Homo sapiens: one gene and its partners. The protein of the gene in region 1 purifies or fractionates together with the protein of each later gene. This does not show direct contact. Each region holds a gene or a part of one and is shown in the gene's direction. Other genes may lie near its edges.

Region 1 (5,020 bases):
CTTCCATGCCCTCTGGCTTTCTCCTTTCTGAGGCTCCCTTGAGGACAGGTGGCTGCTTCCAGCCAGGGCTGCAGTGGCTGCAGGAGCTGCTTTTCTTCTTCCCTGGGTCTTATGGGAGTCTCTGTTCTCTTCCTCCATCTCCAGCCTCTGGTGTCTGCTTGCCTGTTGCCCTTCCTCTCTCTCTTCCACCTTTTCTCTCTCTCTCGGTTGCTGTTTCAGTTGTACGGGGAGTAGATTTTTTCTTTCTTGAGCTTTTCACTGTGGGCTAGAAACTTGGGTGTCAAGGCCTCAGGCTTCTCTAGTTAGGTCCAGCCTGGGCCATGTTTGCCCAAATGTTGGAGAAGGTCTTTCCCCAGGGTCTTCCTTCTTTTGAGGGCCGAGTAGTGCCCTGTGGAGGAGCAGGTTGGACTTGTATTGAGAGTGTAATTAATACAGTTTTTCACATACCTAGTGGGTGGTTGGCTGGGGGCTAACCTTAAATGTGACCCAAATGGGAACAGGTAGGTTTCAGCCCCCTCAACAGCAGTGGGTAGTGGAGGTGCATAGTGGTATCAGGCCGACTCCTAGGAGGCCCCCCCAGTGCAGGTCCAGCATGCAAACTTAGAGACTTGGAAGCAGATCTTGCCAGTACACTGGCCTCTGTCCCTAGGCTCCCCAGCTCCCCTTCCCGGGTCCTTTATGTTTCTCATCTTTCTAAAAAGCACATCTGGCTCCTGTCTCCTCTGCTGAATCATCTCCGGCTTCCAGTAGCCTCGGGTCTGGGCCAGCTCCATGGCACAGCTTGTGAGGCTCCTAGAGACCTGCTGCTACTTCTCTCCCTTCAGATCCTTCTCTCGTTTCCCATATCTGAGCCCTCCATTCCAGTCGCCACGCACCCCTGCATTCGGCCCTGGCCGGCTGTCTCCCGTCGGCCTCTTGCCCTGGTGCCTGCTGGCTTCTTGGTACCTGAGCTGCCTTCCTCCTCCAGCCTCACCCAGCAACAATGTGGCGTCTGTGAGTGCTTCCTTGAGCCTGGGCCTCTCCTCCCTCCCAGGCTGACTTAGGTGCCCCTGTAGGCTTCCTATAGGCTGTTGTTTAATTGTTGTGTTTATCTGTGTCCCCAGTACACGGTGTGTCTTTGGCCTAAATGGAGCCTGGCACGCGGCAATCACGCAGCATGTGCTTGTGGAATGAGTGCGTGAGTCAGTGGGACTCCTGACTGAGGTGTCCTGCACTCTGGATGGCTGTCGGGGATGCTGGAGAAGGAATTTTTGCGTTTGATGGGGCTTGAATCAGATCAGTGGTTTTTTACCCATAATTTTATTATTGTGTTAAAGTCCATAAAACATAAAATTTGCCATCTTAACCATGTTGAAGTGTACACTTCAGTGCTGGTAAATTCATTCATCTGCAGCCATCACCACCTTCCATCTCCAGGACTCTTCTCCTTGCAAAACAGACTCTGTCCCCATGAAACACTAACTTCCTCTTCTCCCGTACCCCAGCCCCTGGCACCCTCCATTCTACTTTCTGTCTCTATGAATCTGACTACTCTAGGGACCTCGGATAAGTGGGGTCATAGAGTGTTTGTCATTTTTTTGACTGGCTTATTTCACTTAATATAATGTTCTCAAGGTTTATCCATGTTGTGGCATGTATCAGAATTTCATCGCTTTTTAGGGCTGAATAATATTCCATTGTAATGGATATACCATATTTTGTTTATCCACTCAACTGTCAATGGTACAGTTTGCTCCCACATTTTAGCTATTATGAATAATACTGCTATGAACATGGGTATACAAATATCTCTTCAAGACCCCGTTTTCTATTTTTTTGGATAAATACCCAGAAGGGGAATTATTGGGTCATATGGTAAATCTGTGCCTAATTTTTTGAGGAGCTGTTATACTATTTTCCATAATGGCTGCATCATTTTACATTTCCACCAACAGTGCATGAGAGCTTCAATTTCTCCTTATCCTTGCCAATGCTTGTGGTTTTGTGTGTTTTTTTTTAGGAGCAGCCATCCTAATGGGTGTGAGGTGGTTAGATAAAATCTTAAGGCACTTATGGCTGGGATTCTATGATCCCATTAGAAGTTTAAGGTATTTGTAGTAGAGTTGCATGGGTCAGCTTTATTAACCTTGAACACACACATTCACATTTGACAGCTTGGGTAGACTTGAACCAGGATTCATTTAGCTTGGGTGGACGCTACTGTTAGTGACCAAAGTGCTGAAAGTAATAGTTATCAAGATATGCTGTGCTTTGTATGTGATAATAACATGTTCAAAAAATATTTTATCCTTTGAATTTCATTGTAGACAGAGAATCTGTCTCATGAGCTATCTTTGAATGGCGATGTTCTATTTGTTACGTGTGCGGATCTCATTTCACCTAACACCTCATTTCCTTCCATTTGGACGACAAGCTCTCTAGTGACGATGCGGTGCGGAGGGTTTTAGCTGGAGAGAAGGGAGAAGTGAAAGGCCGGGCCTCACTGACCTCAAGATCTCAGGAATTGGATAATAAGAATGTGCGAGAAGAAGAGTCCAGAGTTCACAAAAATACAGAGGTGAATTCCAAGTCGCACATCTTTGAAAATGAAATAGTGAGTCTTTTTGTAGTTTAGGTAAAAATATTCATAAATGATTTTATTTTTATTTCGTAGGATAGAGGAGACGCTGAAATAAAAGAGAGAAGTACAAGCAGAGATCGAAAACAGAAGGAAGAATTGAAAGAAGACCGCAAGCCAAGAGAAAAGGACAAGGACAAGGAGAAGGCCAAGGAGAATGGCGGAAACAGACACAGAGAAGGGGAGAGAGAGAGAGCCAAAGCCCGGGCCAGGCCAGACAACGAGCGACAGAAAGACAGAGGCAACAGGGAGCGGGACAGAGACTCCGAGCGCAAGAAGGAGACAGAGAGAAAGAGTGAGGGGGGGAAAGAGAAGGAGAGACTGAGAGACAGGGACCGAGAGCGCGACCGGGACAAAGGGAAGGACAGGGACAGACGGAGAGTGAAAAACGGGGAGCACTCCTGGGACCTGGACAGGGAGAAGAACAGAGAGCATGACAAACCTGAGAAAAAGGTAAAGTCTTGCTGAGAACCTCGCCTTTTGCTTAGCAAGAGTTTGTGGTGGTCTCAAACATGATTTTTACCTTTCTTACAATATGACTAGGAAACTGGTTTTCTTTTATGCCTATTTAAAATGATGACAATCTTGGATTCTCAATAGAAACCCAAAGAGATACTTATTTCTTGTCAGTTGTGTTTTGGGTTTTTTTGTTCATCCCCTAATAGAAGTTTATTGTTCAGCCAATCATTTATTAAGGCATTATTCAGTGAGTTTTTAACCATTTCCTACTTCATGTCCAGGGAGAATTCTGCTGGATTATAAGCTCCCTAAGAGCAAAAGCTAGAGATTTCACTCATGTTCACTGTTGGATGCCCAGTCTGATAGAGTGTCTGACACATAGCAGCTTTGCAGTAAATATTTGGTGGTGGAATGGATTGAGCATCCAGGCAAGGGGTGATGGGCTTTTCAGATCATGAAACACTGGATGGAATTGATCAATTGATGGTGGTTTCTGAGGTCTCCCTTTATGGAATTTTGATCTGGGAGTGGTAGAAGATAATTTGAAGGGGGATGTCAGGAAAATATTAAATGCTTGCTCTTTTTAGGGTTTAATGATTCCCCACCAGGCATGTAGAGAAATCAACGTTTTTCAGAGTTTGAGCTGATTTGCCAAGTTGCTCTTGTCCTTGTCTTGCAGGTGTTTTAAGATGTGTTGCTTCTCCCGTGCGTGTCGTTTGTGTCATTTGTGTCACTCTCAGTATTGCTCTGAAGGCTTTGGAGCAGCCTCCACCTTAGCATTGCAAGCGGTGTTTATGCGCAGTCTGAGTTGTGCATGTGGTGTCTTTAGGAGCATGGACATTGCTCAGTTATTAAGGATTAGGGCTGCTTTCAAGGGCTTTTAGGCATCAGCAGATAAGTACAATAAGACCTGAGTTTACTGTAATTATTGTTTAATTAAATTTTCAGGTAAATTTAGGGTTTGCCAGGAAGTCCTGTTGGTTTCAAACTGTTTTCTCAATGTGTGAATTCTTTCTGGACCCACCATGTGTGTTGGGGACGTTTTCCCAGACACCCAGACACGCATTCTTTGGGGGATGTCAAATTGTAAAGCATCCCGCGAAGATGTTGGAAATCATCTTGTCTCCAGCTGCTAGGAAGGAGGACACTGAGGTCGGGAAGGGATCCAGATCTGCCCAGTTGATCCGGCCGGGCAGTGAGGGGCAGGGCCTGAGCTGGTGCCATGGCCTCTTCCTCCCGGGACAGCCATCTTGTCTTGTGGCACTGCGTCTCAGGGTGTGCCTGCCCAGGGGAGGTGGGTGGGCGCCACAGGACTGACCCTGAGGGAATCCTGTAAACCAGGCTTTCCTGTGGGGGTCAGTATAAGCCCATTTTGTGATCTGTGGGTCACAGTGGGATGGGGGGTGCCTACTGGCAAGACTGTGGTTTTGTTAGTAATTGAACGTAGTGTTCTACAAGGCACTTTGGAGTTTTACTATTTAAAATGTCACTCTTTCCCCCTCCACTGCACATCCTGGAGTAATGTACCCTATGATATGTGTCATACCTGGCTTTCCTTATGAGTCTTAGGAATTACAAAGACATTCCCCATCTTTTGCTCCTTTTTAGAGGTGTAAGAAAAAATATTTTTCATGGACCTGATTTTTCTGAGGCACTAGTATATTCGGGTGTATTTTGCTGTGCATGAGGCATCCTAGGAAGGGGTTAACCTTCCTCAGCTCACAAAGCCTTCGGATTGAGGGTCCCCACGTTATGTTCCCTAAAACTGCTAATGAGGTGACTGGCTTTTTAAGTAGAGAGAAACCATTCCAAAGAAATTCTTAGAGGCTCGGCCGGGCATGGTGGCTCACGCTTGTAATCCCAGCACTTTGGGAGGCCGAGGCAGGTGGATCATGAGGTCAAGAGATCGAGACCATCCTGGCCAACACGGTGATGAAACCCCAT
Region 2 (3,500 bases), on another chromosome or scaffold:
AAAAGTACATCAACAATCAGCTTGAGAATTTGGTTCAAGAATATCGTGCAGCTCAAGCCCAGCTGAGTGAGGTAATTTAAGAATGATTTCCAAGGATTTATTCAAGTTAACAACCCTAAACCCTAAACTTGACACAATACTGTTCATTTGAGAATCATGAAATGCTTTTCATGAACAGCAAAACATCAATTTTCTGCCCACTTTAGGAAGCCAAGAGAGCCGAGTGAACTTATTTCCATTTCACATGTAATAGAAGTTGTTTTCTCCTGGAAGTCTTTAAATGCACGTCTTCATTTGATTTAAGTAAATGAAGGCATATGCTGTTGGGGGAACATAGCTTAGAACAGGAACAGAGTATCAGGACACCTGGTTTTGCTTCTATAAGTCTGTTGTTAATTTACCATTGGCGTAGGAGGAAGAAGAATAGTATGCATTTACATGTGTCAAAGGAAAAAGACAGTCCTTGCCATTCTGGCTTACAACCACATAATAAGGAATGTGAAAGCAAGATACATTCAGAGACAAGCAGTTTAATTAATAAAATGAGACAAATTTTTCATTCTTTCAAAGTTTTAGAATTTTAACCAAAAAATAAAATCACTAGACTTTGAAAGCACCAGTTCTTTGTCCCAGCAGTAGGGATCTAAAAGCTTTCCTTTGGGATTTGTGCCCCCTATTTTCTGATGTTAAAGAAGGCTAGTAAGGACAGTTGCAAACATCAGTTGAAGGCATATTTTTTGTCTTCAGCAGACAAAGTTGAGAAAGAGAAAAAAGTAGAAGTAAATTTGAGATACTTCTATACTTTCAGAAGTCCTCAAAGACTAAATAGAAATCTACACTTTTTGATGTTATTTGTTAAATGTATTATTCCTTCATATACACAATTACTTATGAATATTTTAACTATCAAAATGATGTAAAACTCTCTGATCAAAGCCACCATGTATTTGTCTAATATTAATATTATATAATTGATTGTTAGTTTCTGACATACTCCAGTTGAGTGTACTGTCTTACGGGATGTTAATCCTTATTCATCATTGAGCTTCATGCTCTACTTTGATTGATTTTTGGTTTTAGAACGGACTTTCTCTGCGGAGCATGCAAATTAGATTGACCAAGAGCCCCTCTCCTAAACTGTTTAGGAATGACCAAGGACAGTTTTTATTGTGAACCATGCCCATGCGAGGTACACAGTCAGTTTGTGAAGGTTAAGGTAGTTCATCATTTTGTAGTACTTAGTTAAATACATGCTGCCTATTAGGGACATAAAACAGCTACAGTTAAATGTCACTTTCACAAATGTATTCACAAACAAGGAGCAGGGTTGTCATAAAATGACCTGCAGAAATTGCAAACACAAAGAGGTCAGTCGTATTTAATCTGCTGCTGCTTTGAATTTGCCATTAAACAAAATGTTTTTCCTCTCAGGCAAAGGAGCGATACCAGCAGGGAAATGGAGGAGTGACGGAAAGAACCAGACTCCTCTCTGAGGTACACACTGATGCTCTTGCCCTGCTTCTCACCTGTCAGCTGGGCCCCAGCCATTGAGAACCTACAAATGGTTTAACACTGCTAATTTCAGTTGCTTCCTGTGCCTTTAAATCATTTTCTTTAGGAGATAATCCCTAATTTTCCTATGACTGAATCAATAATTGATACATTTCTTGTTTCCACAGGATGCCTGAAGTTTCTGTATTAAATTCAACATAAAACCTGCTCATAATATTAGCACACTTATAATTTTCCTCAACATTTTTTACATAATAATTATTATTAACATGGGGATGAATAGTAAAGCACTGACTTAAGGAATCTATAACAAATTTTAACGTTAGTCTGCAAGATATAAGGTTTATTTTTAGTGACTGTTATTGATAATTTGTGTGTGATCCTGGGTGTATTTCTCTGTCCACAATTGGGAGTGGCTTATAACCTCCTCCTTTAGAATATTTGCATAAAAATAAATAGTTGCATTTATTTTTATGATCTTGCAAGAGAGGTAGGACCTGATATATATTCCCATTTTTCACTGAAGAGCCAAAGGAGGAAAAAACCTTGAAAAAAGGTCAGTAGTTTATTTGGGACTAAAATCCAAGATGATCTTTGGTTACAATCCAGTATAATTGGAACAAACTTTACTGTTTTGACAGGAAAGAATTAAACCTCTTTTATAGAGATTATTTGAGGAATAAAGTTATTTTAAAACACTAAAAATATAACATCAGAAATATTTAGACTGTAATCCTGTGGTGCTTCTAAGCAAATAAAACAGTATGTAGAAGTAAAGTGTTCACTTATGTTAGGTAAATTAACACTTGAAGGGAGTCCAGGGAACCATTTACTTCTTTTGGAGTAGATAGTTATCCCCAGTTGTAACATTTCAGATGCCTGAAAAAATTAATTTGCTTTACTTGGATGAGCACTTTATTCCCAGGGAAAGTTTTACTCACCAGTATGATAAAAATAAAGCCTACTAAGTCACAATAATTATAGCTTAGTTGTAGATCATGTAAAAAATTTTCAATTTCTTAAAGATAGTATTTTCTACTTATATTAATGCTGGTTTGGAATTTTGCTAATAATAGAGGTTATAGTAGTATAATCGCCAGATAGAGTGCAGATAGGAACAAGTGTGACAGCAAAGTATGCCTCCTTGGAGTTCGGAGTTCATGATTTGGATAAAGCAATAAGAATATTCTTATATATAGCCATATGATATAAACATTTTTTAGTGTCCTATAGAGGAAAAAGTGACATAATGTCTTATAGAACTATAATATTAAGAAAGATACCCAGAAAAGCTTTAGAAATCTAAAATCTCTTCAGGATGTTTATACTATTTTAATTAATAACCAGTTATTAGAGAATTTCAAAGTATATGCGATGAGATAATTGCGAGGTTTGAGTGTCTAGTGACTAAAACAACTTTGATTGTGTTTAGTATATTGCAACATGAGAAAACAGATGTGACAGCCATTTGGTGAAGTTTAACATTAGGAGCATTCTGAAAAACTGAAAAGCTTTGTATATCTGCATACTTTATATTATTTGAATTATGTCCAAAATATTCCTAATATCTTTATTTTTCTATATGTGTGGCTAATATCTAAATTACATTTTCTTAACACATAATTCAAAAATTGTGAAAGTTTATTAAAATGTAATGCTCATGAAAACTTGTTTTCATGAAAGGTTATGGAAGAATTAGAAAAGGTAAAACAAGAAATGGAAGAAAAGGGCAGCAGCATGACTGATGGTGGTAAGTACATGCTCATTTTAGGGGAAAAACTGAGCAAGAGAAAAATAGCTCTTCAAGAAACCTACTTAACAAAATAGTATTAATATATAAAACAAATTATTTGTTGCTTGTTTGAAGAGAGATTCATTGTACAAAAATGTCTGATAATCAGCGTACTGTTTTTCTTATAAATCAGCTGAGAAGGGTAGGCTTTTTAACTATAATTTAGAGGTTTTTAACATTCAAACTATTGATTCAA
Region 3 (3,500 bases), on another chromosome or scaffold:
TTAACTTAGACACCTTTTATTGAAGCATACAATGCCGACACAGCTTGATGGGTTATCTCAAAGTAAACACACTTGTGTAACCACCACCCAGGTCAAGGAATAGAATATTACCAGCATCCCAGAAGCCCTCCTTCATGTTCAGGTGGTGTTTAAATATGTTTGAAAAATATGTGAACACCTTTGAGGTGAAAGAGTATTCAGTGAATATGATGGTCATGATGATGTCACCTTGGATTTAAGGCATTTTCTTAAGATGTGTAAAGTATGTTCCTTTAAATCTCTCTTTAAGATAGAGGTACAGGTATCGACTTATTTCATAAAGAAACTAAGTCTCAAAAAAAAAAAAACTTAAGTTTCTGAAAGGCAGTCATACGATTAAAGTTAGAGGCAGTGGTGCTGTTGGTCTTTAGAGCTCAGCCCATTCAATCAGCAAACTTTTTCTATAAATGGCCAGATAGTTAATATTTTAGGCTTTCTGTGTTGTGCAGTCACTTCCATCTGCATATAGTCTCTGTTGGAACTACTCACCTCTGCCGATGTTGTGCAAAAGCAGCCATAGATAACTCACCAAACAGATTACTGTGAACTGACAACCAGAATTCAAATATTCAATGATAAAACTGGCTCTTTGCAGATGATTTTGAATTTGCCCATTGACTAGAAAGGAAGCTGAAGGCATTTTTTAGTACTTTCCACTATTCTGGTCTTTAGTATCTCGGAGAACAAGATGCTCTGAGTCTAGTGTCTCAGTCTCCTTTGGCTTCTCACATTTATTAAGGTCATTGGGAGTGCCTGCTTTCAAGCAGTTTCTTTTTTTAGCACCAAAGATGCTGGTCTTGCCTTATCCTGCTTTTGGCATGGTCTTGCTGCAGTATTAGGAGTCAAATGCTGACCTAAAATTTGGTGTCCTTTTAATCTGGAACTCATGATGCATGAACTCTAGGGCTTAGAAGTGGCAGGAGGCAAAGGGCATATTGAAGCAAAACTTTTTATTTAGGAAATGATGAGCTGACTATGTAGTCTATGACTTTTTTAGTAAACTGACTTGACATTCACTATCTAATGGCTTTTAATACCTGAAATTTCAGGAGTCAGTCCCAAGTTCAAAATGGATTAAAAAAACAGTGAGGCTGGGTGCGGTGCCTCATGCCTGTAATCCCAGCGCTTTGGGAGGCCGAGGTGGGTGGATCACAAGGTCAGGAGTTCGAGACCTGCCTGGCCAACATGGTGAAACCCTGTTTCTACTAAAAATACAAAAAAGTCGGGCATGGTGGCAAGTGCCTGTAATTCCAGCTACTCCGGAGGCTGAGGCAGGAGAATTGCTTGAACCCAGGATGTGGAGGTTGCAGTGAGCCAAGTTTGCAGCACTGCATTCCAGCCTGGGCAACAGAGCAAGACTCTGTCTCAAAAAAACCACAAAAACAAAGTGAGGATATGAGGACATAAACATTTTCCCTTTATCCAAAGTGCCCACATTGATCTTTTAAGGGCCTTCTCTTTCTTCTAGTTATTTGCAGATCAGTAAATGAGAAATGGGTTCTGATTGATATTATTTCCATGGCACCTTTTTTCATGAAGAGCTTTCAATTTACCCTGTTTTTCCTTAAATATCTTTTTAAAGAGACAGGGTCTTGTTCTGTTGCCCATGGTGGAGTGCAGTGGCATGACATTAATTATTGCAGCCTCAAACTTGAGGGCTGAAGTGATCCTCCTGCCTCATCCTTGTAGGGAGCTAGGACTACAGGCACATACCACCATGTCCAACTGACCTTTACTTTTTTTTTTTTTTCCTGGTAGAGACGGGGTCTTGCTATGTTGCCCAGGCTCATCTCGAACTCCTGGGCTTAAGTGATCCTCCCATATTGGCCTCCCAAAGTGTTGGGATTATAGGTGTGAGCTACTGCCCCTGGCCTCCTTAAATAGTTCGTAAATGGAGGGGTTATTATGCCTTTTTGATAGAAGGGAAAATTTCAGAGCAACTTCCCAAAGGTGACACAATGAATTAGTGTCAGAGCTGGACATAGAACTCAGGTCTCCTTACATTTGAGCATTGTTATCATTACTACATGTGTCATCTTCCAATCACTAGTGGCAGATGTTATTGTAGTCTACAGAGCTTATGGGAGTGCCACAATCTTCAATTTTAGCATTAGTGCCTCTGCAATTCTTTGGATCTTTAGGGAAAAGCCCCATTTTTTATGGCAGTCCCCTTCACCTCCTTGATACATAGGAGCATAGGAGTGGGCAGTGACTTAAAATGAACATCTGCTTTGTGCTATGTACTCTTCTGTGTCCTGTCCCCTTTCATCTGGCTTGCTTCCTGTGCCTCTTTGCTTAATCTCCTGCCAGAGACTCTCTGGTTTGCTTATCCTCCCATCTTGCTTTCTGTCCCCTTTGGGGTATGCCTTGATGGCAAGCTGACATTTTAAAGCTCTATGTTTAACTTCTACATTTTCTTCCTCTCTTTTTGTAGAAGTATATTTCTTGTTTTCTCAGATGCCTAGCTTCCAGAGAAGGTCATAAAATACCTTTTTGTCAATGTGAAGTGTTTCTGAGGTTCTTTTCTGTTGTCATGTTTCCATCTGCCTTCTCTGTCCCAGCTTGCCCTTGTTGCTTTTATGAGGAATATGTGTGAGAGCCCCTTGCACTTCGCAGAAAGGCCTTGGTAGCCAGCAGCTTGAGTCAAGTATGATACTATCACAAGGAGAATGTTTAAAATGAGGAACTAAGTCAAGGAGAGGGAAGGATAATCAGAACCTTGAGCTGAAGGCTGGGGAGAGGCTAGTGGGGTGTGGTTAACTTCATGTGATTAGAGGTAAAGCCATCGTTCAGGAATATTAGGTTTGCAATTTGAGGGAAGTTAAGGGAGAGCAGAAACATGCAGAAATGACCAAAGTATCTGGAATATTTGGAAGAAAGAACACATCCTACTGCTGGTTGTAAAAAATCGCTGTCCCACCTACTCAGGGTCTTTAGAGATGTTCAAGAGGACTCTTGGTGTATGAAATGCTTTTATAGTTGTCTTTGGAGCCATCACATTTTCTGTTTTTGTTTTTCTCTATAGGTTAAAGCCGAGCCAGCCAAAATAGAAGCTTTCCGAGCTTCACTTTCCAAGCTAGGGGATGTCTATGTCAATGATGCTTTTGGCACTGCTCACAGAGCCCACAGGTACCAAGAACCTTGTAGACTACCACACTGAGAACAGTATTCCTATTTACTTGAGTAGCCCAAGCTCTGGGTTGTTTTTGGAGAGTTTTGTATTATACTGTAATCCTTTCAGCTTCTCTAATTGGAACTGCCACTATGGCTCTTGTTGAGTAGCTCTCATCCAAAGAGGAAATAAAGGTAAAAAAATGTTGGTAATTGTAGGGCTTTTTGTGGAGTTTCAGGAAGAGGTTGCTCTTTCTCACCTTAGATATTTTGTACAGAGTTATCCTTTTATGAACGTTATAAGATCAGACTCTCATGCTGTCAGTAGGAAGCAAATTGAGGAATCCTCT
Region 4 (3,500 bases), on another chromosome or scaffold:
TGGCTCTGCTTGGCCAGCGTCCTTTGCTCACAAGAGGCTCCTGGGAACCCCACACCTGTGCCCTAGTCATGCCACATGGGAGGAGTGTGGGCTGGTGGTCAGTAGCCCTCAGTTCTGGTGTCTATTCTGGAATTTCATTTAGAGTGGCCCAAGTGCGTCTTAGCTCCTCTCTGGGCATCTGTAAGTGATGATAATGGTCATGGCTGCCTCACAGGGTTTCTATGAGGAAGAATGAGATGGGGTATGGAGGATTTAGAGTCATGTCTGGCAGAAAGCAAGTACCCCACACATGGTAGCTGCTCGTAGTCATTTTTTGGCCAGACTTTGCCTGAGATTCCCCCACACAGAGGCTGCTAGTGCTCCAGTCCTTTCAGTGCAGAGCAAACCCTGGATCCTGCCGTGTGGATCCTGCTGAGGGGGAGGCGTTGTGGGGTATCAAGCCCTGGTCACTCAGGGTTGATGCCTCAGTCCTTGGCGCCCAGGCAGAAGGGGATGGGAAAGGAAAGAATGATTTCCTGATATCTATATCTGGGGCGGGGGGCTGTACATGGCTTCTGTCTCACTTAATCCATACTATTGTGAGCCCTATTTACAGAGGAGAAGACTGAGGCTCAGAGAGGTGAAGTGATTTGCCCAAGGTCACACAGCTGGCAAGTGGCAGAGCCAGGGTTTGAACTCAGATCTATCTGGCTCCAAGTTGTGTCCTGACCACTGCTGAGTTTTCAGAGGGGCCGGAGGTGGCTGGGGATGGGAGTTGGGAAGGAGGTAGTTTTGGCTCTGCCAGAGTTGTTCCCTGGAGCAGGTACCAGTTGGGAAGTCCAGGCCCTGATGTGCCACTCACCCTCCAGTGTATGCCTGGAAGGGCGAAACGGACGAGGAGTACCTGTGGTGCATTGAGCAGACCCTGTACTTCAAGGACGGGCCCCTCAACATGATTCTGGACGACGGGGGCGACCTCACCAACCTCATCCACACCAAGTACCCGCAGCTTCTGCCAGGTGAGCAGGGCGGGGCAGGTGGGCTGGGTGCTGGTGGCCTGGGTGGGGCCTGTTTGCCCACATGATGGCCGCAGGCCTGGCAGGACTCCCATCACCTCAAGCAGCAGGATCTGGAAGATGGGAGGATGGCAGGCTCTGGCATTCATGCTGGGGCCTCCTGACTTCTGAGGGTGCGAGGCTAGGGCAGCTGAGCTGATGGCCCAAGGGCAGGCACAGACAGGGCCATGGTTGGGAATAGCTGGGAGGGAGCCAGCTTTGTTCAAAGCAGGTACGCAGAGTGCAGAGGCCCTGAGGCAGGAATGGCTGGAGTGTTCAGGAAACAGAAAAGAGGCCCACAGGATAGCAGTGAGCAAAGGGAGCCTTCACTGCGGGTATGGTGTGAACTTCGTGAAGACCAGATGTGTCAGGGCCTAATAGGCCAATAGAAAAGTGTTTGACCTGATTTGCAGAGCAAGGGGAAATAACTGGAGGGCGTTGAGAAGATTTCTCTGAGAAGATACATGTTAGAAATGGCTGCTGCATGGAGGATGGGTTGTGGTAGGGAGACTGGGAAGAAGCGACAGGGTCACGGACTAGAGCAGCGGCAGTGAGAATAGAGAAGCTGGGAGTTGTTCGGAGGCAGAGTCACTAGGCCTGGTGGTGGCTTCCCTGTAGGAGGGCGTTGGGGACTCCTCCCTCACGCGGGTCTGGGTGATTGGGGGGCCTGTGGGATCAGTCACAGAGATGGGAACCCAGAAAGAGGAATGGCTTTAGGGGGTAAAGATGAGGAATTTGCATGAGCACAGGTGTGGCATCTCTGAGGCTTGTCCTGTCCCCTCTTGTTTAGGCATCCGAGGCATCTCTGAGGAGACCACGACTGGGGTCCACAACCTCTACAAGATGATGGCCAATGGGATCCTCAAGGTGCCTGCCATCAATGTCAATGACTCCGTCACCAAGGTGAGCCGAGGGGCAGTGACAGCTCCCGCTACAGTGGCTGCAGCTCAGGACGAGGCCTCTGAAGAAGAGTGCCCAGGAAGGCTGAGATTAGGGACATGAAGCCCTCATTTGAGGGGGCAAAAGCGGTTATAGACAGGCTAATGAGTGCGTTTAAAAGGGGTGTCAGAGCTGGGTGTTAGGAGCTTTATGGCTTTGGGAAGAAGAGCTTTCAAGTTAAGCAAGGTCTTTGACCGGGCAATCTCTCCTAGTAACTGATGCCTAGGAAGGCTCCACACTGGCAGAGAAAGATTAGAGAGAAGCTCTTTGAGCCGATCGGGGTGAAGGGCTTGTGGGGGCATTGGGTGCTGGAGGGGTTCAGCCCAGGCCGGGATGCTTGGTGGGCCCATGATGCCTGGGCTCTTCAGAATACTCTGAGGCCAAGTTGTCCTGGCCCCAGGGCCTTGCCTGCCCCTATTGTCTCCTTACCCCCTTTCCTTTCAGAGCAAGTTTGACAACCTCTATGGCTGCCGGGAGTCCCTCATAGATGGCATCAAGCGGGCCACAGATGTGATGATTGCCGGCAAGGTAGCGGTGGTAGCAGGCTATGGTGATGTGGGCAAGGGCTGTGCCCAGGCCCTGCGGGGTTTCGGAGCCCGCGTCATCATCACCGAGATTGACCCCATCAACGCACTGCAGGCTGCCATGGAGGGTAGGATAGGGCAAGGGTTGGTTGTCAGCCACTGGGGCCAGAGGGAGGGGCAAGGCCACCGTAGATGACCCACAGCCACTGTCTCTGCACAGGCTATGAGGTGACCACCATGGATGAGGCCTGTCAGGAGGGCAACATCTTTGTCACCACCACAGGCTGTATTGACATCATCCTTGGCCGGTAGGTGCCAGATGGGGGGTCCCGGGGAGTGAGGGAGGAGGGCAGAGTTGGGACAGCTTTCTGTCCCTGACAATCTCCCACGGTCTTGGGCTGCCTGACAGGCACTTTGAGCAGATGAAGGATGATGCCATTGTGTGTAACATTGGACACTTTGACGTGGAGATCGATGTCAAGTGGCTCAACGAGAACGCCGTGGAGAAGGTGAACATCAAGCCGCAGGTGAGAAGCTCCCGCCTTGCCAGTGGGCTGGGCAGATGGGAGTGCAGAGGAGTGCTGGCTGCCAGGGAGGAGAGCTGAGGAGATGGTGGCAACCTGTGCAGGGGGATGGGGAGAAGAGGGCCTAGCATCAGAGCCAGCCAGACGTGGCAACCTTATCCTGTGGGCAGCCGGCATCCCTGAAGGTATCAGGCAGGTGAGCTGTATGTGGTGAGGCTGTAGTTTTAGAAAGATCACTCTAGCTACTGTGTGCAGAATAAAAGCAACAATGGCGGGTGGTGGGGAGAGAGGCTTTTAGAGGAGGCTCGTAGAATCCCTGCAGGGGATGATGGCAGCCTCAGCTTAGGGAGTGCTGGGGTGGATGGACGGCATGTGGGGTCAGGATGGAGGCAGAGTAACAAAGGACACAGCTTTGGCCGGGCATGGTGGCTCACACCTGTAATCCCAGCACTTTGGAAGGCCGAGATGGGCGGATCACC

Evidence for each region. The genes of interacting proteins can lie anywhere in the genome.
Region 2: the proteins of TRAF3IP1 (region 1) and IFT57 purify together in Homo sapiens (affinity purification with mass spectrometry; 5 studies listed by BioGRID and IntAct, with this or other methods). This does not show direct contact.
Region 3: the proteins of TRAF3IP1 (region 1) and PGK1 purify together in Homo sapiens (affinity purification with mass spectrometry; one study listed by BioGRID and IntAct). This does not show direct contact.
Region 4: the proteins of TRAF3IP1 (region 1) and AHCY purify together in Homo sapiens (affinity purification with mass spectrometry; one study listed by BioGRID and IntAct). This does not show direct contact.

The regions. Positions count from the first base shown.
Region 1 is NC_000002.12:238,326,273-238,331,292, forward strand, and holds part of TRAF3IP1 (TRAF3-interacting protein 1), read left to right. Parts: intron 1-2,413; coding exon 2,414-2,557; intron 2,558-2,653; coding exon 2,654-3,070; intron 3,071-5,020.
Region 2 is NC_000003.12:108,163,425-108,166,924, reverse strand, and holds part of IFT57 (intraflagellar transport protein 57 homolog), read left to right. Parts: coding exon 1-71; intron 72-1,431; coding exon 1,432-1,494; intron 1,495-3,195; coding exon 3,196-3,262; intron 3,263-3,500. UniProt on the Homo sapiens protein: Required for the formation of cilia. Plays an indirect role in sonic hedgehog signaling, cilia being required for all activity of the hedgehog pathway.
Region 3 is NC_000023.11:78,114,248-78,117,747, forward strand, and holds part of PGK1 (phosphoglycerate kinase 1), read left to right. Parts: intron 1-3,064; coding exon 3,065-3,168; intron 3,169-3,500. UniProt on the Homo sapiens protein: Catalyzes one of the two ATP producing reactions in the glycolytic pathway via the reversible conversion of 1,3-diphosphoglycerate to 3-phosphoglycerate.
Region 4 is NC_000020.11:34,289,856-34,293,355, reverse strand, and holds part of AHCY (adenosylhomocysteinase), read left to right. Parts: intron 1-848; coding exon 849-998; intron 999-1,824; coding exon 1,825-1,937; intron 1,938-2,417; coding exon 2,418-2,625; intron 2,626-2,717; coding exon 2,718-2,805; intron 2,806-2,906; coding exon 2,907-3,024; intron 3,025-3,500. UniProt on the Homo sapiens protein: Catalyzes the hydrolysis of S-adenosyl-L-homocysteine to form adenosine and homocysteine. Binds copper ions.